7 linked regions of the Homo sapiens genome follow. The protein of the gene in region 4 purifies or fractionates together with the protein of the main gene of each other region. This does not show direct contact. Each region holds a gene or a part of one and is shown on either strand. Other genes may lie near its edges.

Region 1 (4,078 bases), on a different chromosome or scaffold from region 4:
GGCAAAAATCTTCCAGGGACGGAGCTAGGGGGCAAGGGTCTGCCCTGGAGGAGAGCCCAGAGCCAGGGTCCAGGGTCCAGGGAGAAGCAGAGGCTGTCCGATGAGCTCGTGAGAGAAGCCCAGAGGTTGTCATAGATGTTCAGCTCCCACCCCCAGCCCTCCTAGGCTTATCCCCACCCCCATCTACCAGGGGCTTGTCCCAGAGGCTAGAGGGCCTCAGAGCCCATTTGCTGGCTGTGGTGCTAGAAGGAGACCTTCTGGGCACAAGCCCTGCTTGGTCCAGGGCCCCCCCACCAGGGGCCCCCCACTACCCCACCCCCACCAGGGGCCCCCCACCCTCGCTCCCTCTCCATCCAGGCCTCTGCTCTTCCAGACCCCTGGTTCTTCCCTGCACACCCGCTCCTGCCCCAGCCTGACATGCGCTGACAGGAGTGCAGGCCCTCTGAGTCAACCCCCTGGGGCGGCCCCGCCCCCCTGCACCCTGACTCATGTGCTGGGAACGGCCTCCCACCCCAGGGCCTGGGGTGCAGGAGCAGTGGTGCCAGGGTCCCAGAAGCCAGAGAGGGTTTTGGAGGCCTCTGTAGGGGGTGAGGGGGTCCTGGGGGTGAGTTCCAGGGTCTGCAGGCTTCGGGGGAGGGCCGGTCCATCCACATGCTTCCTGGTGCGGAGGGGGCTCGCTGGATTCCAAGGACCAGGGCCAGGGCCTCCATGGAGTCCCGTTGGACCCTAAAGCTCTGTCCCTCCAGCCTTTGTCCTGATCCCTGGCACTGACCCCTGACTCCCGACAGTGTCTCCTGCCAACCCTTCCTAGGCCTCATCCCCACCTCACCAGGAAGGCTGGGCTACCATGGAGGCTGGCTGATTCTTGGAGCTACCTAGGGCCCTAGACCCCCAGGGACTGGGGCACCCTCCCCTTCATGCTGGGGGTGGCAGGACATAGGCCCCCCGCAGGCCCCCTGCCCTTCCCTGACACTCAGGACACAGAGGGCCCCTCTGTCCCAGCCCCACGACAAAGGGCCCGGTCTGGCCTTTACAGGCTGAGAACAAGAAGGACCCAGGTCCCCGTGGCCCTGTTGTGGGATGGGAGAAAAGGAGGCGGGAGGCCAGGCTGGGACCTGGGGCCATGCAGGGCCTGTTCTTCCGCCCAAATTCCACCTTAAGCAGGCGGCGGCCCCTCCCTCCCACCTGGCCAGGTGTCCCCGCCCCCAGCTGCGCTCAGGGCTGGGCAGGCGTCTGTCTTCAGGCGGCTCTGGGTGAGGCTGGCTGGGCGGGGACTTCAGGGAGAGGGCCTCGAGGGACAGGACGTGAAGATAGTTGGGTTTGGAGGCGGCCGCCAGGCCCAGGCCCGGTGGACCTGCCGCCATGCAGGACGGTAACTTCCTGCTGTCGGCCCTGCAGCCTGAGGCCGGCGTGTGCTCCCTGGCGCTGCCCTCTGACCTGCAGCTGGACCGCCGGGGCGCCGAGGGGCCGGAGGCCGAGCGGCTGCGGGCAGCCCGCGTCCAGGAGCAGGTCCGCGCCCGCCTCTTGCAGCTGGGACAGCAGCCGCGGCACAACGGGGCCGCTGAGCCCGAGCCTGAGGCCGAGACTGCCAGAGGTAGGCGGTGGGGACAGCGGCGGGGATGGCGGTGGCGGGGAGAGGTGGCTGCGGGCGGACGTGATAGTGTGAGGGCAGAGGCCGCAGTGAGGCCGGCTCCTGACTCACCAGGCCTCACACTGAGTCACACACCCCGCCCCAGGGGCGTGGGGAGAAGCCATGGGTGGGGCTGCCCTGTCCAAGCAGGGACCCCGGGGTCCTCCAAAGACTGAGCCTGGCCAGGCCCCACCTGTGCCTGGAGTCCTGGAGCCATCCCTGTGGGGGATGACAGGGAAGGTTGGCACATGGCAGGCGGGCCAGGCCACTCGGTCGGCAAACCCGGAACACGCACGCGCCTGGCCCCGGTAGCACAGACTCACATAGGGTCTCAGGGACACCCAGACACCCACGCTCCTCCCATACCTCACGGGAATGAGCAGAACGGGAAAGCGGGGAGAGGTGTGGGGGTGCTGGAAGTCCTGGAGGAAAGCCAGGCCTGTCTGGACCAGGGGCTCCCTGAGGAATTAGAGGGGAGGGCCCGGCTGGAGTGACCTAGATTTCTCTGTGGGAACAGCAGGTGGAGGAGCACCCCTCGGTGCCAGCCAGACCCACCTGTGGCGGAATCCTGGCCCCACTCACGCGAGTGTGTGTGCATGCGTGTGAGTGTGAGTGACAGGAGCACAGACGCTGTGAGTTGAAGGCAGTGGTTCTAGGAACGCCATTTCCTCCTTCCCAGGCTACAGCAACAGGGATTAAGGTTAGACAGTAAGATGGACCTCCCAGAATGCCAGGGACCCAGATGCCAGTTCATCATGGTCCACTTGGTGTTTAGAGGGGCCTTCCCCAGGACTGGCCTCCAGCCACTGGCCAGGGGGAAGTGAAGGTCGCCCAGCGGAGGGGCCGGCCCGGCGGCCTGGACTGTGGGGTCCTCCCTCCAGGGGCCTCAGCCTTGCTGGTGACCAAGTCGGGTGCCCAGGGGTCATGGGGTGGAGGACGGTGAGGGAAGGGTTAATTACCACCCTGGCTGCCCTGCCAATTAGAGGGAGGTGGATTATAATTGGGGGGTGGGGGTGAGGTCCCCAGGCTGGGGCGTGCCCCCACTCCGGGCTGGGCCTCACGAGCGTCAGAGGGTTAATAGCCCCGGCCCAGAAGCCCCATTAACCAGGGTGAACCTGGGGCCTCTGCCATGGGGGTGTCCCCCACAGAGCATCCAGCTCTGGGCAGAGTTGTGGGAGGGCCACGGCCCCTTTCCCTGCACCCCACCCTGAGCCCCTCAGCCAGGTCGCTCTGGTGGGCCTTCTCATGCCCCCACCATCAGCCCATCCTCTCTGCACCCATCCACGAGTCCATCCCTCTGCCCACTCACCATCCAACCATGGGACCCTGTCGTCGACGGCTGTCCCACCCCTCCATCCACCACTCTGTCCATCCTTCCAGCAGTCACAGCAGCCCTCCCATCCTCCTCCTGCCTGTCCCTCCATCCACCCTCCGCCCTCCACCCTCTGCCCACCCACCTGTCTGTCCACTCACTGTGGAGTCGGGCTGACGCAGCTGCCCTTGGCGTGTGTGTGGCTGGACGGGGTGGGTGTGGCCCCTGCCTCAGGCTCTGCCGGGTGGGACAGGGCACTGCAACAGGGCATACTGGTCCAGGGAGACAGTGTCACTCTCCTGTGACCGGGCACAGATGAGGTTTGGGCACAGGAGGGGCTCAAAAGGAGTCAGTGTGGGCCGGGGCAGGCCAGGCTGGCTTCCTGGAGGAGGCTGGGCACTGTACCATGGCAAGGATTGGAGAACTGATGTCAGAGGCCCTGGCACATTCCTCCTGGCGACCAGGAGGTCAGTGGGTGAGCGTATCTGCCCTCTCGGGTAGAGGAGGCACAGCTGGGGGGTGGGCTGTGGAAGATGGACCACCAGGGCTGACATGTGAGGAGACCAAGCCATGGCAGGAATGGGGAGGCACTGGCCCTGGTGCCCCCCTGGCCTCCCTGCCCTGGATTGGAGGCTGCTCCTAGGGTTGCCAATAGCGATGGAGTGGTGGAGAGGAGGCAGGAGGCCAGTGCTTTGCTGTGTGGCAGAGCTGGGCTACCACCGTCCCTCTCCACAGGCACATCCAGGGGGCAGTACCACACCCTGCAGGCTGGCTTCAGCTCTCGCTCTCAGGGCCTGAGTGGGGACAAGACCTCGGTGAGCGATGGGCCCAGCCCGAGGGGGACGATCTGAGCTCTGCAGTCTGGAGAGTGGGAGGCTCTGCAGCGGGCCCGGACACAGGTGAGCCCAGGCACGCCCTCACCGCCCCCTCTCGACCCACAGGGCTTCCGGCCCATCGCCAAGCCGGCCTACAGCCCAGCCTCCTGGTCCTCCCGCTCCGCCGTGGATCTGAGCTGCAGTCGGAGGCTGAGTTCAGCCCACAACGGGGGCAGCGCCTTTGGGGCCGCTGGGTACGGGGGTGCCCAGCCCACCCCTCCCATGCCCACCAGGCCCGTGTCCTTCCATGAGCGCGGTGGG
Region 2 (3,500 bases), on a different chromosome or scaffold from region 4:
ACCTGCAGGCAGATCCCAGGAAAGTCCCAAGCCTGGAAGGGCCTGTCTCCCTCGAGGCCAGAGTGGGACGGTTTGGGGGGCTGGGGCCCTCACCCAGCACTGGTGGGTGGGACAGCATGGGTGTGCAGGTGGGCGTGGATGAGTATGGGCATGGGAGGGGCCGGGCCTGTGCTAGGATTTGCCAGGAGGGCACTCCCAGGGCCTGGTCATGCCACCCTCAGAACTGCCTTTCTGTGCTGACATCTGCCCTGCAAGGTTGAGGCTGTGTCCCCTTTTCTCCAGAAGTGCAGCTGCCAAGGAGTCCCAGGCCCCGTGGTATACAGTGGGCTCATGGCGACACCCAGGCAGGCCCACGGGCTCTGCCCTCAGGCTCCCTCCCACCCTGTGGTGGGCACAGCCCCTGCTCTGGGCTGGCTCTGCGAAGAACCAGGGAGAGTGGGAAAGAATATATTGGGGGGGGCAGGGGTGCTGCCCCTCACCCAGGAGAAGGGATGTTCCAGGATCCCGCGGCACAGGCAACACAGCTCCTTGGTCCATTTGCAGGGACAGTAGAGGCCGGAATGTGAGGACCAAGCCTCTGTCCTCCCCACAGCAGGGCAGGTTTGCGGGAAGCGGGAGAGAAACAGTGGCAGGACAGGCTGTGCTGGGGTCCCAGGACTGCTGTGAAGCCCACCTCCCCCTGCCGCTCCTCTTCCCCCACTCCAGCTGCGCTGCTCACGATGTTGGGGGGCAAGCGGCAAGGGATGAGAGAGGGGCCTGGCCCTTTAAGCAGCGGCCCGCAGTCGGCCTTGGACCCTTGGCCGGGCGACTGCACTGCAAGTGGGTGGGGTGGCGGCCCCCGCCCTGGCGGGGAGTCCAGGGGTCATGGAGGTGGCGGGCAGAAGTGCGTCTGTGACTGTGGCCATAAGCGCTTGCAGGGTCTCCCAGGTGGCATGGGGCAGGCACATGTCCTGGTACACACGCCTTTTTTCAAGTCTGGGATTTCACTGTGAGTAACAGGTGAACTGCAGGCGCTGCCCCAGAAACCCCCGAGTCAGGGAGCAGGGATACTGGGAAGGCGCCTTTGGAGATGCCTGGGGGTAGGGGTGCCTCCCCAGGGCCCAAAGAGTGCTGGGACCTACAAAGGGTCCACTGAACCCCAACACCCCTCACTTATCACTCACCCCCAGAGCCTGGGTGGTTCTGAAATCCCTGGAGCCTCGGTCCCTGCTAGGCCTGGCATCCACAGTGGGGTGTGTAGGGACATCCACACTACCTGCTCCGCCTGGGGAGGTCCTGGGAAGCTTCCTGGGGAATTGCTGACATAGCTGTCGGTTCTCTGCACCTGTCCAGAGACTTTCCTGCCTTTACCTCCTCTGGGAGAGGTGGGAGGGTACTGATGGAATCCCCAGCACCTCCTCCTTTGGCCAGGCCCTGGAGAAAGCAGAGAGTAAGGCACAAAATCCCTGGGAGAGCCACAGGGAGGAGGAGAGGCAGCAGGTGGCAGAAGAGTCTGCAGAGAAGTGGTGCAGCCCTTCCGCCTCCCCGGGGCTGTCCTGCAGCGGGAACATCCAGGGCTACCCCAGCTCAGAACAGTGAGTGGAAGCCAGCTACAGTGCCCATCCCAGCCTCTGCTCAGGGGAACCTGCAAGCTGGGGCGTCGTTGGTGACAAGTCACCTACCTGCTTTCCCCTGTCCAGTCAGCAGGTTCCCACAGAAGAGACTGTTCCTCCAAGGCTGCTGCCTCAACCCACCCAGCCTGGAGCTTCCCCTATCTCCACAGTCCCCCAGCGTCACGCCCTTTTTAGGGACACGGGGAGCTGGCACAGCAGGTGTTCTGGTTGGGGGTTTGCACACACTCCCCTGTCCTCAGGAGTTATCCAGGGTGGCTCTACTCCACCCAGCAGGGGAGAATGGAGAGAGGAGGAGCCCTAGGCACTGGGGGCACGCGGGGCAGGCAGTGGGCACCTGCTACACATGTGGCACCAGCCTCTTCTGCAAACCAGGACAAAAAAGAGCCCTGGGGTTCCCAGGCCCTGAGCTCCCGCCGTCACTCCCCTGCCCCGTCCAATGGGATAGGGCAGGCCTCAGCCCAGCTGCCTCAGGCTCTGCACAAGCAGGAGCCGGCTTGCCATGGGGGCTTATGTTCTGGAAGGTGTCCTCGGGGTGGTGCTGGGCCATGCTGGCTTCACCCTCCCAAGAGCTGGCAGCCACCAGGTGGGTGCTGCCCAGTTTCTGGTCCACATCGGTGGTCGCCCCAGCCAGGTCAGGGACGGCCAGGTCCATTCTCACCATGTGTCTTCGTGCTCATTATCTTCTTGGAACCACATGATGCTGTGTGGCAGGCAGGAGGAGGAAGCTGAGACCAGAGCCATGGTGTGCACTACCCATGGTCACTGAGTCAGACATCCAGGGATTCACGTTCGGGTCCTTCCAGCTGGTGCAGGGCAGGGGACTTCCTCCCACCAGCCTGTGGCCTCGGACTTGGACGTGTGTGGAAGGCAGCAGCACACGCTGGTCACGTGTGCAGCGGGTGCCCACTGCCTGCTCTGCGTGCCCCCAGTGCCCCGGGCTTCTCCACTCTCCGTCCTCCCCTGCTGGGTGGAGTACAGCCATAACCAGACAGCAAATGCCCCGAGGGCTGTGCCAGGGTGATGTCATGCCTGGGGACGGGGAGGGCCTCTCGGAAGCCCTGGCCTCCTGGTCCTGGCACCCAAGCCCAGGCCTGGGGCTCCCAGCCAGCTGGAGGCAGGGAGGCATTGCATCAGTGCAGGGGAGGAGGAAGGCCCAGCCTGGCCCCAGGCCATGGGTATGGGAGATGGCCGGGCTCGTGAGGGCCTCTCCTCTGGGCTGTGTGACACACACCCTCAGCAGGAGACCCCTGTGGCCTCTGAGCCCACCCCTGCCTGGGCCCAGCGCGTGCCGTGATGGCCAGCCACCTCAACGCCACCTTTACGGGCATCCTAGCGGCGTCCTCAGCTGGGTCAGCCCCTAATTAGCATGAGGAGGAATGTGGGCGTAGGTGCAGGCTGTAAATGTGTGGCAGTACCCCCTCCCCCCACCGCGGGCAGAGCAGGTGCTCCGCCAGAGGCTTGCCGGCTGGGCTCAGGCTCGGGTCTGGGCTGGGTGTGACTGATCCTCAGCAGTAGATGGGGTGCCCTAGGCGGACAGGGCACCCTAGGCGGACAGGGAGCCCTAGGTGTTCTCTCAACCCACTTGACGGCCCTCCTCCTACAGGGGGCTTCGCCACCTTCTCCTCCTGCTTCCCCGGCCTCTGCGAGGGCAAGCCTGCTGCCCTGCTACCCATGAGCCTCTCCCAGCCCTGCCTGCCTGTGCCCAGCGTGGGCCTGACCCGCATCCTGCCTCACCTCTACCTGGGCTCGCAGAAGGACGTCCTAAACAAGGTGTGTGTGCAGTGGAGTTCGGGGGGTGGTCAATGGGAAAGGGGCAGGAGCTCCAGAAGCAGCTTGGCAGCGGAGCGGGGGATGAGGGAGGAAAGGAGCTGAAGGCAGTGGATGAGC
Region 3 (2,934 bases), on a different chromosome or scaffold from region 4:
CTAATAATTGTATTAATACATAGCAGATGGGCTTATTCGGTGTGAGCATGACAGAAAGCTAGGAGAATTAACGATATGAGGCAGAGCTATGGTCACAGAGATGTACATACACATACACACACATCCTTGCGTTCAAGCACATAAAAGTGTGGTGGAAACATAACTAAGAATGTAATTATCATGACTGTAAAAATAAAATGTTAATTTTTGAGATAATTATCCACTTACAATGATAAGTTAATGGCATAATATGGCTGCAGTCTGCCATAGTGTTTAAGAGCACAGGCTTTGAATTCCAGTCCCCCTGGGTTTCAAATTCAGCTGTATTGCCTAGGAGCTGTCTGACTTTGACCAACTTACATGGCCTTTTGAAGCGTCACGTTTTCCTTTTATTAAAATGGAGATTAAAATAATAACTACTTTCAGGGGGTTGTTATAAGGACTAAATAAGAATATGAATGTAATTTTTTAAAAAAGAATGAAAACCCCTCAATCCTAGACTATATGAATAATATATTTGCGTATAATTCAAATTGGCAGTTAGTGAGGAAAATGTTGGTCAGTGATGATCACTGAATTTTAACAGGGACATTGAGTAGAGCTAGTGACTATTAAAATCGAGGTGTACAGGAGGACTAAGCAGGCTGAAAGATCTGAAGGAACTATAGAGGTGAGATTAAGGGGAATGAATCACTGTCTCCAAAGATGTAAAGAACTGTCATATAGAATAAAGTTTTCCATTGCATCTAAAACATAAATAGGACTAATGACAGTAAGTTATAAAAAGAAAACACTTTTTTTTTTTTGCTTTGAGTAGGATATGAATTAAAGGTCAAAGATTCAGAATGGTGTATTGTGTCATGATGTCATCTGTGGTCTGGGGAGGGGCATGCATGTGCCTTTGCAACTAGATTGTGAGCTTTTCGGGGTCAGGGCTTGATCATTAACTTTTTATTTCATAAGTAATTGCCAACAGGAATTAAGGAAGATTTGGTGAATGAACAGATAAATGAATGATTTATACATACATAATACATCTGAGACTATTTTATTACATGAATATTGTATCAATGTAGACATGGCCAGTAAAGAGAATATTGGAAGGAAAAAAGCCTCTAAACTGTGTTCAAAAATGTTTAGTAAAACGCATTTTGGATGGTATAGTTAATGCTGGATTGTATACAACTTGATTAATAAAAAGGATATTTTAAGAGTTCCAGAAAAGTAACAAGCAGAACAGAATTCTCAACTACAAATGACGGACCTATTTTCTCACTAATACCGTGGTCCCAACATTTAGCTATAGGTGCTAACATTTAATAGTTCATTATTTCTGTTGTGTGCTTCCAAAAGCCACAAAATGTATGTATACACACACACACACATTTATTTATACATACACGTTTCTCCTCTAATTCTCTCCTTATATCCTTAACCATTTTCTCTTGGAAGTAGTTGCCATTGCCTTGTTGTGCTTACTCAGGTCACTTGGGTTGGGTACTGTGGCGTAGTCAGACTAATGATTGTATGCTTCATTCAGCAGAACAATTTTTTCATTTTTACTTATTCCATTCCCTTCAGACACTTCTAGTTTCCCCTCTGATAGTACTTCCCTCCCCATTATGCAGTGTGGTTCACTGTTGGGGCCCATTTGGGCACAAACGAGACCTTTTGTTGAGTTACTGTACTCCTGCCTTTCTAATTACAGAATTCCAAACAGAATGAGTGAATTAATGACATGAATTTATTTCCTGCAGTGTCTAGGGCAGTGTAATGCTGCAGCAAGCTTGCAATAGCACATAAGCTCTCCCTTCACTCCTTGTCCTCCATTTTTGCCGGGTGACTTCACAGCAGCAAGAATGGAAGGTGCACTTTACTCACCAGTGAGTAAATCATGTGAATGGATATTTTAAAGCACATGCCCTATACGCAGTTCACAGAACTATACTTTTAAAAGCTCTCTGAGAACACATGCTTGGAATATGAAAATGTACTGAGTACTGTATTTCTTCAGGTATCCTAGGTAAGGCAAGAGTGTATAGGCATAGGCAACATTTAAATGTGTGTTGTTGCATTTCATTTCTCCAAATAATTGTTTGATATTTGACTCTACAGCCCTTCAGGGCAGGCAAATACTTGTAACATTAGCTCCATAGAGATATGGTTCTCAATTACCAAAAGACTGTAGAAGTCACTTTTCTTTGCCTGACACTGGGAAGGATTCTGATTGAAGGAAGCAGTCTTTGTTCCTCTGGTCTCATGTGACAGTCTGTATCTTCAGGTCCATACAGGTTGATGCACACCAAAAAGTGGATTCAAAGCTGCCTATTCAAGACTTGGTGATAGGGAAAGATGAGGAGTTAATTTTCATTTTCGTTTATCAGCTGCCTGTTTGATTAAGATTTTTGGTAGGAAGAGCCATCTTTCAGACATAATGCCTAGGGTAGGTTAAGGGCAAAAATTAACTCTTTGAAATATAAATGCTTCCTATTAGGTTGGCAGATTTCACTAAGCTCTTTTTGGGAAGAAAATGCTAAAATTCAAAAAGAGAAACATGGAAGTTATTACAAGAATGAGAAGTGTGAGGGAATGACTTTAATAAATAATGAACTATTAATGACGTATACTGAAAATATAATGTCCAGAAAAGGAGAGTGAGAACTCCATCACATGATACTGTGGGTAACTAGGATGATTTTCAGACTAGATAACGATGAGTATTACTTTTTCTTCATAAATTACACTCACAGACTCCCCAGTCACAAGCAGAGTACTAGGCCAGAGGGATTGTGGTTCTAACCCCTCAGAGAACATTTCTTGTTAAATAGACTTCTTTCCTGTCTTCCTCTAGAAAGTCTATGAAGGCTGATATAATTCCAATACATTGGTTATTTTTGAAAGCAAAAGCAAAGTGAAAGCAATTAAAGTGTTTTC
Region 4 (3,500 bases):
ATTTTTGGTCTACATACATACAGTAGTTACACCTCACACTTGGTTAGGAAGGTGCCATTTTTACATAATTTTCCTTCAGAATAATTAATTCCTGATACTTTGTACTTGATTGTATGAACCAGTTTCAACATCATTCTTTTTATTTTAACTTTTATTATGGGAACTTTCAAACATATACAAAATAAACAGAATAGTGTCCTGCTTTAACAGTTATTAACTCCTGACCAATCTTGTTTCATCTCTAATGGTATCCACTTGCACCCTTACCACCCATAATTATTTTCAAGCAAATCCTAAATATCATGTCATTTCATTCATTATTTTTTGGGATACTAATTACACAGTGGGTGCCCAGTAAATGTTTGGTAAAGACAAAGCTAAATGGGAGAATAAATGTGGTAGGGTAGCTCGGAGCAGTGGGTAAGATCAGGACTTTGAGTCAGACTCCCAGTGGGTCTGCTGCTTATCTGGGTGATGTGCAGAAGCGATTGCACTCATCTGTAAAACATACGGGCACAACCTCAGGGTGCTCAGGAGGTGTACAGTAGTTATACTTCACACTTCGGTAGGTCTCTAAAGGTACTGACTCTTTTAAAGTTGAAAAAGTAATAATTGCTTAATATCATCAAATAACTAGTCAATATTCAAATTTCCAGCTGCCCCATGAATTTTAGGTTTCCTTAATAGTTTGAAAGTAGAGCAAGAGAAGGCCATACGTTGTTGATTGGATGATACGTCTTTTAAGTTTCTCTTAATCCATAGATCCCCCTCCTATTTCTTTGTTTTCTTGGTAGTTTATTTGTTGAAGCAATCGAGTTGTTCCTTAGCATTTCCATAGTTGGTATTTGATTGATTGCATCTCTGCAGTGTAATTGAATGTGTTTCTCTGTAATCTCTGTAAGTTAGTAATTGGATCTAGACGAGGCTTCGTCAGATTTAGGGTGCATTCCTGCATCAAGATGCCTTCCTAAGTGGGCTGTGCACTTCTTATCTAGAGGTACCCTGAGGCTCTCTGCTCGTCCGTGTTGCAGATGAGTGCAATCGCTTGCTGCACATCACCCAGATAAATAGCAGACCCACTGGGAGTCTGAAGTCAAAGTCCCGATCTTAACCACTGCTCCCAGCTGCCCTACCGCATTTTTTCTCCCATTTAGCTTTGTCTTTAACAAACATTTTTTGGGCACCCACTGTGTAATCAGTAGAGGATTGAGAAATAAATCAGACACATTTTCTGCCCTTACAGAGTAGAAGTGTAAGTAGACTCGGAATGCAATCTAAAGCGAATACTGGGAGGGTGGCAAAAATGGGGGCATGCCCAGCATGGTTTGAAGGGAAAGGCTGGAGGAGGAAACATGTAAGAGAAGCAAGTGCTTGAACTAGATTTTTGAAGGAGGGTGAATGTTGACCAGCAGGTCAAAAAGGGGAGGGAAGTCATTTCAAGCAGATGGAACAGCTTAGGCAGAGGCCTGAAGGTGTGCAGTAGCTGGGTGTGTCCGCTGATCCCAGGTGGTTTGATGTTGCCTAAGATTGGGCCAGAGGACTGCCATCTCCTGTGCTGTGCTAGGGAACTGAATCTTATTCTCCAGGCAGTCAGTCACTGTTGAAGGAGTTCAAATGGGAGAATGGTGTGATCACTGCACACTTTCAACAAATCTCTCTTTTTTCTTTCCATATTTTGAAATAATTATAGATTCACAGGAAGTTGCACAAATGGCACAGAGAGGTCCCAGTACCCTTCCCCCAGCTTTCTCCCACGGTTACATATTTACACAACTGTAGTAAAATGTCTAAACCAGGACATTGGGCATCGGAGCAAGGTGTATAGAGTTCATTGTCATTTTTTATCGTGTGAAAATTCCTATAACCACTACCACAATCAAGATTCAAAACTATGTCATCATCCCAGATATCTCCTTGTCCCACCCCCTTACAGCCACAGCAGCCCCTTTTCCCCACCATTCATAACTGCTGGCAAGTACTAATCTAGTCTGCATCTCTATACTTTTGTCTTTTCAGGAATGTTATATGCATGGAGTTATACAGGATGTGACTTTTTGAGATTGGCTTTTTTCGTTGACTATCCTGCCCCTGAGATCCACCCAAGTTGTGGTATGTTTCAGCAGTTGCTGAGTGGTATTCCATGGTATGGGTATACAGCAGTTAGTTTAACCATTTACCCATTGAAGGACAGGTTTGGGTTGTTTCTAGTTTGGCACTATTAAAAATAAAGCTGCTGTGAACATTTGTGTACATATTCTCACGTGGAGTGATTTCTCTTTCTAAAGTGGCATGTGTGCAGTGGTTCGGAAGTCACAGAAATGGTGGCTGGGAGAATGCTTCTGCTGTCGCTGGTCCAAGGAGCCACGAGAAGCCCTTACCCAGGGCCCTGGGAGTGGGGGATTGAGAGGGAAATAGGCAGGCCTGGGTGCCTGGAAGTGGGGCTGGTGACGGAGATCCTTGCAGGGTCCTATGGATCCAACAGTGGGTGAAGTGATAACCAAATGCTAGTTGTTCTGTATTGTGGTATATACTGTGGCTTAAGAACTACAGAGGATGGCCCTGAGAGCTGCAAGGTTCTTGATTATCAAAGAAAGATTACGTTGTTATACCAAGCTATTCTTCATAAGAATTACAGTAGGAGGCCAGGCGCGGTGGCTCACGCCTGTAATCCCAGCACTTTGGGAGGCTGAGGCGGGCGGATCATAAGGTCAGGAGATCGAGACCATCCTGGCTAACACAGTGAAACCCCATCTCTACTAAAAATACAAAAATTAGCTGGGTGTGCTGGCGGGCGCCTGTAGTCCCAGCTACTTGGGAGGCTGAGGCAGGAGAATGGCGTGAACCTGGGAGGCGGAGCTTGCAGTGAGCCGAGATCATGCCACTGCACTCCAGCCTGGGCGACAGAGCGAGACTCCGTCTCAAAAAAAAAAAAAAAGAAAAGAAAGAATAAAGAATTACAGTAGGAAAATAGAACTTTTTAAATTTTTACTATTTTTTTTTTTTTGAGACGGAGTCTCGCTCTGTCGCCCAGGCTGGAGTGCAATGGTGTGATCTTGGCTCACTGCAAGCTCCGCCTCCCAGGTTCACGCCATTCTCCTGCCTCAGCCTCCCTAGTAGCTGGGACTACAGGCGCCCGCCACCACACCCGGCTAATTTTTTGTATTTTTTTAGTAGAGACGGAGTTTCACCATGTTAGCCAGGATGGTCTCCGTCTCCTGACCTCGTGATCCACACGCCACAGCCTCCCAAAGTGCTGGGATTACAGGTGTGAGCCACCGCACCCGGCCAGATTTTTACTATTATTATTATTATTATTGTTTAATATAGAGTTGAAGCCTCACCATGTTGCCCAGGCTGGTCTGGAACTCTTGGGCTTAAGTGATCCTCCCACCTTCGGCCTCCCACAGTGCTGGGATTACAAGTGTGAGCCATCTTGCCCAGCTGGAAAACAGAACAATTTAATGAAAAAAATGTCGGCAGCAAGCATTGAGACAGAGGGT
Region 5 (3,500 bases), on a different chromosome or scaffold from region 4:
GGTTTTCTAGCACTTCTCACAAAGCACCACAAACCAGGCAGCTTAAAGCAACAGAAGCTTTATTCACCCACAGGCTTGGAGGCCAGTACTTTGAAATGACGATGTCGGCAGGGTCATGCTGTCTCAAAAGGCTCCAGGGGAGAATGTTCCATGACTTTCTCTTGGTTTCTGGTGTTGCCAGCAGTTCTTAGCATTCTTTGGCTTGTGGAAGCATCCCTCCAATCTCTGCCTCCATTGCCATACGGCATGCCCTTCACACAGGTGAAGACATTTGTGTCTTCACATCTTCCCTCTGTGTATGTCTGTTTCTGTGTCTCTCCTCTTATTCCTTTAAGGACACCAGTCATATCGGATTAGGGCTCACCTAACTCCAATGTAACTTCATCTTAACTAATTATATATTAGTTAAGAAATAGGACATACCCTGTTTCCACGTAAGGTCACATTCACAGGTAATGGGGATTAGGACTTAACATATCTTTTTGGGGGACACAATTCAACCCATTACACTTACTAAATATTAAACTGAACAATGCAAAACTGCTGCAATTCGACTGTTTTTGTTTTATAAAAGTTTTAACTTTGTAGTTTAACTGAAATCCTAATGGAAACAATATGTGATAAATAAAACCAACTGATGTTGATTAGTGCTGTCAACTTTTCTGACATATGCTGGAGAAGAGATGTGACCACTGGGCTCCCGACAATGGCCACTGTGGCTGAGCAGGCCCAAGACTGCAGAGTCTAGGCAGAGCTGGACACACAGAGGACCTCACATGCCTTCAGACATTTGCCTGGAAGTTTCTTCACAACTGATCTTACTTTTGAATTTACAGAAAGTTCCTTGTTTCTTCTGAGATCAATTACTTTGTTTAAATAGAATTCTTATAGTGTTGGCAGAATGCAGTTGAGAAGACGTTAAAGATGCTTTAGAAACTAACTGCTCCCTTGTCCTTGCTTCCAGGCCCGCAATGGATGCCCTGCAACTAGCAAATTCGGCTTTTGCCGTTGATCTGTTCAAACAACTATGTGAAAAGGAGCCACTGGGCAATGTCCTCTTCTCTCCAATCTGTCTCTCCACCTCTCTGTCACTTGCTCAAGTGGGTGCTAAAGGTGACACTGCAAATGAAATTGGACAGGTAAGCCCCAAAACCTTGTTTCTACTTTAAGTGGGAATACAGTTATTAGAACCCATAGGCAGTGCCTACGGAAAAAAGGAATGTAGACTTTGTGGCCAGAATTGGTCAAGATTCAGAACTGTGCCATTCCAGGACTCTCTTAATCTTTTTTTTTTTTTTTTTTTTTTGTGAGACAGGGTCCCACTCTGTCACCCATGCTGGAGTGCAGTGGTGCGATGTTGGCTCACTGCAGCCTCCAGGTTCAAGCGATTGTTGTGCCTCAGCCTGCCGAGTAGCTGGGATGACAGGCGCGTGCCACAACGCCAGGCAAATTTTTGTATTTTTAGTAGAGACAGGGTTTCACCATGTGGCCAGGCTGGTCTCGAACTCCTGACTTCAGGTGATCCGCCTGCCTCGGCCTCCCAAAATGCTGGGATTACAGGCATCTTAATTTATTTTTAAATGTGAAAGCTCGCTTGTAGGTAATGCAACTCACATCTGGGACAGGCACCAGGCTGTGATGGAGAACCTGGAGATCTGCTGGGTAATCACAGCTTTTTCATTCTGACTTATAATATTTTCAATTTACAATGGTTTTATTGAGATGTAACCTCATCATAAATCAAGCAGCATCTGTATCGTTTTAGGGTTTCTTTCTGGCTATGGTTGATTATCTAGCTTTGTAAAGTTCTTAGACCTTCAAATGAGACAATTTTCCTGATTGTTCCGTTTTAAGTCCTCATGTACTTTTACATAATAGGTGAATGTTCTTCTAATTCTATTTCATTATTACTCTTATGCTAATCATTCTAGGTTCAATAGAATTTCTTTTCTATTAGCTCATAAGCATTTAAAAAGGCAACACCTTCTTGTATTCATATGTGTCCAGAAAGTATGGCCCATAAGAGTTATTTAGGTAAGGATGAAGAATTTACACTTGGGACTTGAAGCAGCTTCACTCCTGTGAAGAGGAGATGTATCTTGACATCAAGCCACATCTCTGAACTGCGCAACTCCACTATCCCTACCCAATCTCCCATTCCTCATTTCTCATCTACCATTAGAGAAAGGCCAGCGAAAGAGAACTTCCGGGTAGTGGGTCTGTTCCTCAGTAATTCCTCAAGCTCTTCTCAGTATATGCAACTGGTTCCCCAGCAGTAGTTACCTGGGCTCTTAAATTTTCTGGTCTCCTTCATCCATCTTTAGGCATGAGAGTTATGCACTGTCTGGGACCAGCATTTGACCCTGCAATGCTGAGGCTATGTAATTCATTGGGACAATGTGCCGGTTTGGCAGCGTTCGTTATCTGGGTTGTGGAATCACAGCATGGCCATTATGAGTTATGGAGCGAGGAGGGTGTCATCTTATGCTGACATTACATGTTGTGGTGTTGCAAGGCAGAAAAGATGCTGGACTATTGGTTGGAACAATAAAAAAAAAAAAGGAAAAAAATACAATGATTTAAGCCCTCCAAATGATAGTATCCTGGTTTTAAATGGCTTACAATATTATTACAAGAATAATTAACAGTTTGAATCCATATAATATTTTACGTGTTTTACATATAAGTAATCCTCATTAACAACTCAGGAAAGCAGGTATTTTCAGCCCATTTTACGGAGAGGAAAGGAGGCTCTGAAGAGTTGGAGAAGATTCTCTGAAGAGTTGGAGAAGAGGTGGTGAAGGCTGGGATTCACAGGCAGGGCCATCTGACTCTAGCCAGCCCAGGGCAGCCCACCATTTATTGTAGCTGCCCATCAGAAATGACACATCTATTTACCTGGCATTTGCTAAAGCACCCAGAGGGACTAGACAGACTCTGGCTAGAGGCACTTGTCCTGAAATCTGATTCCTGCCTGATGATGGTGTCTCTTGTATCAATCTCTCTCTCTGGTCTTTGAATTGGATAGAAATTATAACCCAGCTTCATCGTTCTCCAAGTTTGGAAATCCTTCTGTGTGAGTATTAAGGGCATCACTTTGAAGAAAGGACAAATGTTCTCGATGGTTGATTTGGAAGAGTACCTTTATGGTAGTGTTTCTCAGTGGGGACAATTTGTCCTCCCCTTCCCACTCTGGGATAATCTGGCAATGTCTGGAGACATTCTGGGTTCTCACAAATAGGAGGAGGATGCCACTGGCATCTAGTAGGTCAGCGATGCTGCTAAGCATCCTGCAGTGCCCAGGACAGCCCCACAAAGACTCATCCAGCCTGAATGTCAATAGTGCTGAGGTTGAGGAGCCTTACTTTACGGGAACTAGGCAGGAGGAGTCTGTATGCCCAAGGACGTTGGTCATTATCACGTGTCCACTTCAGTACAGCACTACTCAGAGGCAATGCTTTTTGGGTAACGGATTTTTCTCTTAACAGGTTCTTCATTTT
Region 6 (3,500 bases), on a different chromosome or scaffold from region 4:
AAATATAAATCCCTAATTGACATAGTTTTATTTTGCTTGTTTTTAACCTCAGTGCAAACTAAAAGTAGATACTCTTGTGAATCCTTCCTTCTGGCCGGCATCGTGTGTGTGTGTGTGTATGTGTATGTATGTGTGTGTGTATGTATGTATATACACACGCACATATATAATTTTTTAAATTTCTGCAGCATGCTATTTTAAAAGATTTATCCATATCGTTGCCTATGCCTGTAGTTTTTGTGTTTTAATTTTTTTAGAGACAAGGTCTCACTATATTGCCCAGGCTGGTCTTGAACTCCTGGGCTCAAGGGATCCTCCTGCCTGGGCCTCCCAAAGTGCTGGGATTACAGGTGTGAGCCACCACACCCAGCCCAGTTAGTACATTTTTGTCTTATGAACATACCACAAATTACCTTTCCACTGTTGATGGACATCTGGGTTGTTTCTGGTCTGGGGCAATTATGAACAGCCCTGAGTCAGGTGTGCATACCTTCAGCTTTACTAGTTGATACCTGGTTTCCAAAGTGGTTGTACCAATTTACATTCCTTCAGTGGTGTCAGCCTTGAGTTTGTAAGTCACTGTATTTGCTGTTTAACCACAATTATGCTTGAATATTTTCTGAATGAATGAATAAAGGTCCCTGGGTAGTCCGATCCCTGGCCTGTCATGTGCTAGCGTATTTTTATTTAGTTATATGGTTTGGACTAACCACCCAAATACCAGAAATGGTTTTCCCACTGTGTTTGGTTGACAAATATCTAATGGAATCCTTTCATCAATCTTTTTTTTTTTTTTTTGGAACAGATGAGTAGTTACAGGAAATTTTAAATATGCAAAATGAAGTACTAAAAATAAGTGGCTAGTACCTAGATGTTTTTTAAGGCTCTTGAATGAATCCTGCCTCTGGTGAATGCTTCCATTGTGCCCAGCCCTAAATGTGTAGGACAGTGTAGTGTGCAGGAACCCAGGCCTATCCTTGTTAAAGTACCCTCTGAGGATGAGACTCCTTAAGAGGCACTGTGCACAGACCCTAACTCATACTTCTTGGCAATTCCAAAGTAACCACAGACTCTGTGCTACAGGAATCAATGACTCTTTTAAACTTTTTTTTTTTTTTTTTGAGACAGAGTCTCACTCTGTCGCCCAGGCTGGAGTGCAGTGGCGCGATCTCGGCTCACTGCAAGCTCCGCCTCCCAGGTTCATGCCATTCTCCTGCCTCAGCCTCCCTAGTAGCTGGGACCACAGGTGCCCGTCACCATGCCCGGCTAATTTTTTGTATTTTTAGTAGAGACGGGGTTTCACCATGTTAGTCAGAATGGTCTTAATCTCCTGACCTCGTGATCCGCCCGCCTCGGCCTCCCAAAATGCTGGGATTACAGGCGTGAGCCACCGCACCCAGCCTTTAAATCTTTTAAATGTATTTTTCTCCAAATTTTCCTTTGCCTGAGAAAGTAGAAGTAGCTTAGAGCAGAGTTTTTGTCGTTTTTGTTCATTTTCTTTGTAAGAGATGGAGTCTAGCAGTGTGGCTCAGGCTGGCCTTGAACTGCTGGGCTCAAGGGATCCTCCCACCTCAGCCTCCTAAAAGCTGGGACTGCAGCATGTGCCACATCCAGCTTGAATTCCTGCTTTGTGAACAGACAGTTACCAGGCTCACTTTGATTGCCCGTGTTTAGTTTTGCCAGCTGGATTTGAAGTGTGTGTGTGAGAGAGAGTGAGAGAATGTGAGAAAGAGAAGGAGCAGGAGGGAGGGTGTGGGGAGAGGTGGGCAGTTCACCTGAGGGCAGCCGTTAAATTCAGGTGTTCATTGAGTACTTACCATGTGCCTAGTATTATGTGCTGTGTTTCTGCCCTTAGAGCAGAATGTTACGCAATTCTGTAGGTTTACAAAATACCTCAGGGGAATCCTTTTTAGCTGGAGGGATGATGGAAGAACACTAGCACAAAGACTGAGATTTGTAGATCCTTTTTATTTCTTCTCTAAAGCATCTTGGAAAATAGCTAAATCACTCTATTTTCAGTCTTTATTTACATAAGTCACAAAGACTTTTTTGCTCATTATAGTAAAGATTTTTTTTCAGATTCTCTAAAATAATGATAATTTTAGAAACCACATGCGGATAAATTAGAAGTTTTCAGGAAAAGACACCCAAAGGAGGAGGAGTAAGAAGTCGTTAGTATGAGAACCTGTTGATCTGAGTGATGGGGGAGGAGCCCTGTCGTGTTCTTTGTCACCCCTTCGGCCTTCCAGCGGGCAGCTTTCACAAAGGAGCTCCATTTTCCACCTGTTGCAGGGCAGGGGCAGCCTCAGCCTGGGCGAGGGAGGAGGCCTAGGGCTGAGATCACAGCCATGCCCTTTCATGTGCAGCCCACCCAGCTCACCTGGGCACGTCCCATTCTGTTCTTGCACCAACCTAGAGCAACCAGAGGTCCGGTTGGGTCAGCTTTTCACACCCCATGCCATGTTGAAACCTCAGTGGACGAGAAGGTTCTTTTGAAGTTCATATGCAACTGCTGGGTTTACTTCTGTCTTTGTCCCAGAACAGTTTCAGCATCAATGACCTAGGGCAAGTTTTTTTGTTTGTTTGTTTGTTTGTTTTGACTCCTATGTCTTTGAGTGTGTGGGTACATATGAGAAAACTCCCTAACTAGAGCATGCTGCTTCTGTTGACTAGTAAACATTATGTGGCAGAGAGCGCCTTCAAAGCACCAGCCTTCCCTGCCTGGGAAAGTGACCAGTAGGTGAACTTGCTTTAAGTTTTGTTTTTTTTGTTTTTTTGTTTTTTTTTTGAGACGGAGTCTTGCTCCATCACCAGGCTGGAGTGCAGTGGCGCGATCTCGGCTCACTGCAACCTCCGCTTCCCAGGTTCAAGCAATTCTCCTGCCTCAGCCTCCCGAGTAGCTGGGATTACAGGCGCATGCCACCACGCCCAGCTAATTTTTCTATTTTTAGTAGAGACAGGGTTTCACCATGTTGGTCAGGCTGGTCTCGATCTCATGACCTCGTGATCCACCTGCCTCGGACCCCCAAAGTGCTGGGATTACAGGCATGAGCCACCGCGCCCAGCCTGCTTTAAGTTTTAAGGAAGCACTTGTAAAAATAAAATCTGGAAGTACTGTCAACATACAAATTACATACAAATTTGGAGATTTATAATGAAGAATTTTGCCAATTTAGCTAAAATCTAAATCTTAGATTTAACTAAATCTTTTAAATCTTTGTGTTTCATTATAAAACACAAAACATTTATAATGAAGACACACTTCATGTCATCATTATAAATCTTTGGTGTTATCCTGGCTCCTATATAAAGAGCACTGGCAGGCTCAGGCCAGAAGTGGAGAGGGGGCTTGGACCGACAACTATGTGTTGTTAATTTTCTTCTATTAAAAATATTTTTTACTTTTAGAAATTGAAATCATATAGAAAATTATGCTGGGCACAGTGGCTCACGCCTATAATCCCAGCACTTTGGGAGGCTGAGGCAGGTGGATCACTTGA
Region 7 (3,500 bases), on a different chromosome or scaffold from region 4:
AATATTCACTTTACGTTATTTTGTTACAATAATAAGTTTTATATTTCTTATTATCAAGCAAGAGTTGCCACCTGGACAGAGTTTACATTGATACTCAATATTTTTGATATGTTAAAGTGTTATTATACTTGTACCATTCAATTGGAGATTGTCATAAATTAAATATGGTATTTTTTACTCAGATTTGATGAGACTGCAACTAGAGAATAAATATTACATTAAAATTGCTGCTATTTTAAAACATAGAATGTAACTGTTTGTATTGTAAAAGTTGTGTGTCCTCAGTGAAAAATACTGCCTTCAGCTTCCAAAGCAGGCACCTGAATGCCTTTTTCTTTTCTCTCTCTCTTCTTTCTTTAAATACATGCCTTCACTAGATTGCTGTGACCTACTAAACCTCATTTTATTTGCTTGGAACATTTTTGGCTTCTCTGTCCACACCATAGAAAAGGACAAAGGCCTTCCAGCTCTCCTTTTCTCTTATTTGTTCCCTTCTAAATACTTGACTCTCTGGGGGTGTGAAAAGATTCAGCTCATAATTTATACTACTATTAATTTTGTGGTCCTTCTAAGCCAATTTAAAATTATACTTTTGTGTATATATTTTCAAAATCTTTGCTACTGACTACCTTAGCTTTAAAGTTGCTAATTTGGAGATGACTGATAGAATCCCTGAAACTTGGTGGAGGGGAGTGGAAAGGAGCAGAATGTGTTTGTGTATATGTATGTGAAACATGGATCTTCTATATATAAATATTCTTTAGAAAAAGCGTTCAGTCTTTTTACAATTCTAAGTAAAACGTATAGGTCAACAGAAATTAAAGGAATATTTCTTAAAATTCATTTATTTTTCTTTTTTGAAAGCAGACAGAAGCAAGGCTAGTATAGTATGAATGGTCAGGTAGTTTAAATGCGTTGTCCCACGTGGAACAGGAGATATTAACTGTTTTTAAAGCTTTACATTATTTTTTTACAAGAATTTGTTTTCCTGTAATTTTCTTCACAGTTAAAATATCCTAATTTATATTTTAACAAAAGAGATGTAAGATACATCAAATATAGATGATTCAAGGTAATGTTTTTTAGACCTGAAACTATTGATTCAATTTATCATCAGTGTTTATTTCTATTGTATCTAGTTATCTATCCAAATAATTGTATTGGCTTAGCGGAGACTGTATGTTAAGTGTATTAGTTTTAGATTGTGAAATTGTGCAGTTTAGGTAAACATCAAATCCCTTTATTTTTGTACAGCAGATTTCCAGCATTAGAACCATGTAGAACAAATATACTAGATGTTAAAGATTACACAATAAAGGAACTTGGCAAACCAAATCTGAGATCCTTGCTTTTTGTTCAGATTTAAGACTGTTTTTTTTTTTAAGGCAAAAAATAATAGATGGTAAAAATTTGGCCTTTATTCTAAAAGGACAGTTTGAACCATTTAAAGAAATATTATGGGTAGCCATGTCTTTAAAAATTTTGAGGCCTGATCAAAGGACGAATCTTTATACACATTGTTATTTTCAAAGGTATTTACAAATTGAGAAGCAGAATGATGATTTCTTGCCCCACTAATGACAAATAAAATACCATTTCTTACCATAAACATTGAAAAACAAACTGAACAAAACTTGACCATATAACTTACAAATACTTTTGACTTGAATTTGCATGTGGAGTATGTGTGCTAAAACTGCAAGTGAAGACTTTTTATACTTAGAGGAATAGTTGTAGAGTTCTTTGTAAGGTTCTTTGTTCATAATTTTTTATATTTTGTGATGTGAATAATAGTATGCATCTGCATGACAACACTGCAGATCATATTGCTGTGCCCTTTTAATAACTGGATATTTTAAAATTATTTTAAATGCAGTTGTATGGTTTATCAAATGGTTCTCTTTTTAAACATTTTATAAGGAAATTTAGACCTTTTCTATTCAAGGCTTTGTTGAAGTAATCAGTGAAGGAAATGGTATTATATATCTATACAGTATATTGTTTAAAGGTACTTTAGAGAAGAATTAAACTGAGACAGTGATGTTCAAGTACATAATCTGTGCATGCTATTTAAGTATCATTTTGCAAATATAAATATATACATAAAAATAATTGAGTTAGTATATAATCTATAAATTCCCCTATAATTAAGGGTTGTTATTTTCAAATCTTGAAATTGTTTATTTTTTAAAATTCCACGCAGTGTATTATATAGGGCAAAGTTCAGGAAACATGTTTCCAGTCTAAAGAGAGGAGTGATGTAAGAAGAAACTAGTTGACATCTTAAGAAAGGGTATTCTCACTTGTGCACACATATCCTTGATTATATAATATGCTGATTTAACATGAAATATTTTTTCACATTTTAATTTTGATTTGAAGTTAATCTTATATGTCATTTTGTGCATTTTTTGTCATAAATCTTCAAAGGTCAACCTGATTTTTTTTTTTTTTAAATGATACCAGATTAGAAAAATCTCAGATGTGGTAAATGCCATCTTTAAAAAGCTAGGTTATCTTTGTTTCGGTTTTCTTTTCAATTAAATTTGGATAACACTTACAAAAAAAGTACTTCTGATTCCCAGAAATCATAAAGAAGCAGGGGGAAGGCGTCCCCGACTTAGTCCATGTGATGCGCACATTAGCGAGTGAGAACATCCCCAGCCTCCCACCAGGGGGTGAATTGGCAAGCAAGTAAGTTACATTCTGTACACTCTTATGCTTTATGTCAGTGTATGAAAATGTTAGGTATTCATTGATAAAATGTTTGTTTGCCTAATTTCTGAACTGATGCAGTTATCTGTGTTTTAACCTGTGATTTCAATTTTTTTTTAGTATTAGAATATCTAGAGTTTGTTTAGACATAGGTATCAGTATCATTGTAACTAATTGCAGTGAGGGTTGTCTTTATTGGAAGCTTGGTTGGCATTGATTTCCTCATAGAGCATAAACGAGATAATATACTGAAAGAACTTTTTAAACTAAATTACATAGCACTACATAAAAATTTACAAAATTCTAAGTGTCGTTGTTAGTAGTAGTATAATTTGATTTGGTCAATCCCTGAGTAACTTAACACCCTGAAAATTCCCCTTCCTCATATGGACCATGTTTCTATGCCTGATTTTCCCAGTATTTTTGGTTGTTGATTGCTGGTTAGTTGGTTTTAGGTGTCAGGGAAGAAGATAGAATATATTTCTTGTCTTTTCCCTTTCCACTTTAGTTCATAGAATTGGACTACTTTGTGTTAAATATTAAGCTTACACCTTTACATAATAAAGTGGAAAATTCAAGCAATTCCAAGGGTTAAAACATTTTTACCTCAAATATCCATATAATTGACTTACAAACATAAAACTTGCAAATACCTTTAGCTTGAATTTGGATATAGAGTAAATGTGCTAAAACTACAAGTGAAGACTTCTTGTACTTACAGTGAAGATATATTATTGACTAATTTTCTCGATTCTCTACTGTGTTTTGCAAGTGTGACCATGTTC

What was found.
Region 1: the proteins of MAPK9 (region 4) and PKP3 purify together in Homo sapiens (affinity purification with mass spectrometry; 3 studies listed by BioGRID and IntAct, with this or other methods). This does not show direct contact.
Region 2: the proteins of MAPK9 (region 4) and DUSP8 purify together in Homo sapiens (affinity purification with mass spectrometry; 4 studies listed by BioGRID and IntAct, with this or other methods). This does not show direct contact.
Region 3: the proteins of MAPK9 (region 4) and PRKD1 purify together in Homo sapiens (affinity purification with western blotting, with the first as the bait; one study listed by BioGRID). This does not show direct contact.
Region 5: the proteins of MAPK9 (region 4) and SERPINB5 purify together in Homo sapiens (affinity purification with mass spectrometry; 3 studies listed by BioGRID and IntAct, with this or other methods). This does not show direct contact.
Region 6: the proteins of MAPK9 (region 4) and DUSP14 purify together in Homo sapiens (affinity purification with mass spectrometry; 3 studies listed by BioGRID and IntAct, with this or other methods). This does not show direct contact.
Region 7: the proteins of MAPK9 (region 4) and PPM1A fractionate together in Homo sapiens (co-fractionation; one large-scale study listed by BioGRID). This does not show direct contact.

The regions. Positions count from the first base shown.
Region 1 is NC_000011.10:392,931-397,008, forward strand, and holds the start of PKP3 (plakophilin-3), read left to right. Parts: upstream 1-1,278; 5' UTR 1,279-1,362; coding exon 1,363-1,594; intron 1,595-3,677; coding exon 3,678-3,757; intron 3,758-3,883; coding exon 3,884-4,078. UniProt on the Homo sapiens protein: A component of desmosome cell-cell junctions which are required for positive regulation of cellular adhesion. Required for the localization of DSG2, DSP and PKP2 to mature desmosome junctions.
Region 2 is NC_000011.10:1,558,772-1,562,271, reverse strand, and holds part of DUSP8 (dual specificity protein phosphatase 8), read left to right. Parts: intron 1-3,216; coding exon 3,217-3,383; intron 3,384-3,500. UniProt on the Homo sapiens protein: Has phosphatase activity with synthetic phosphatase substrates and negatively regulates mitogen-activated protein kinase activity, presumably by catalysing their dephosphorylation.
Region 3 is NC_000014.9:29,578,914-29,581,847, reverse strand, and holds part of PRKD1 (serine/threonine-protein kinase D1), read left to right. Parts: intron 1-1,757; exon of another isoform or gene 1,758-1,883; intron 1,884-2,934.
Region 4 is NC_000005.10:180,285,584-180,289,083, reverse strand, and holds part of MAPK9 (mitogen-activated protein kinase 9), read left to right. Parts: intron 1-2,016; exon of another isoform or gene 2,017-2,109; intron 2,110-3,500. UniProt on the Homo sapiens protein: Serine/threonine-protein kinase involved in various processes such as cell proliferation, differentiation, migration, transformation and programmed cell death.
Region 5 is NC_000018.10:63,483,458-63,486,957, forward strand, and holds part of SERPINB5 (serpin B5), read left to right. Parts: intron 1-964; 5' UTR 965-971; coding exon 972-1,139; intron 1,140-3,488; coding exon 3,489-3,500. UniProt on the Homo sapiens protein: Tumor suppressor. It blocks the growth, invasion, and metastatic properties of mammary tumors.
Region 6 is NC_000017.11:37,492,891-37,496,390, forward strand, and holds part of DUSP14 (dual specificity protein phosphatase 14), read left to right. Parts: intron 1-3,500. UniProt on the Homo sapiens protein: Involved in the inactivation of MAP kinases. Dephosphorylates ERK, JNK and p38 MAP-kinases. Plays a negative role in TCR signaling by dephosphorylating MAP3K7 adapter TAB1 leading to its inactivation.
Region 7 is NC_000014.9:60,287,221-60,290,720, forward strand, and holds part of PPM1A (protein phosphatase 1A), read left to right. Parts: exon of another isoform or gene 1-1,335; intron 1,336-2,585; coding exon 2,586-2,694; intron 2,695-3,500. UniProt on the Homo sapiens protein: Enzyme with a broad specificity. Negatively regulates TGF-beta signaling through dephosphorylating SMAD2 and SMAD3, resulting in their dissociation from SMAD4, nuclear export of the SMADs and termination of the TGF-beta-mediated signaling.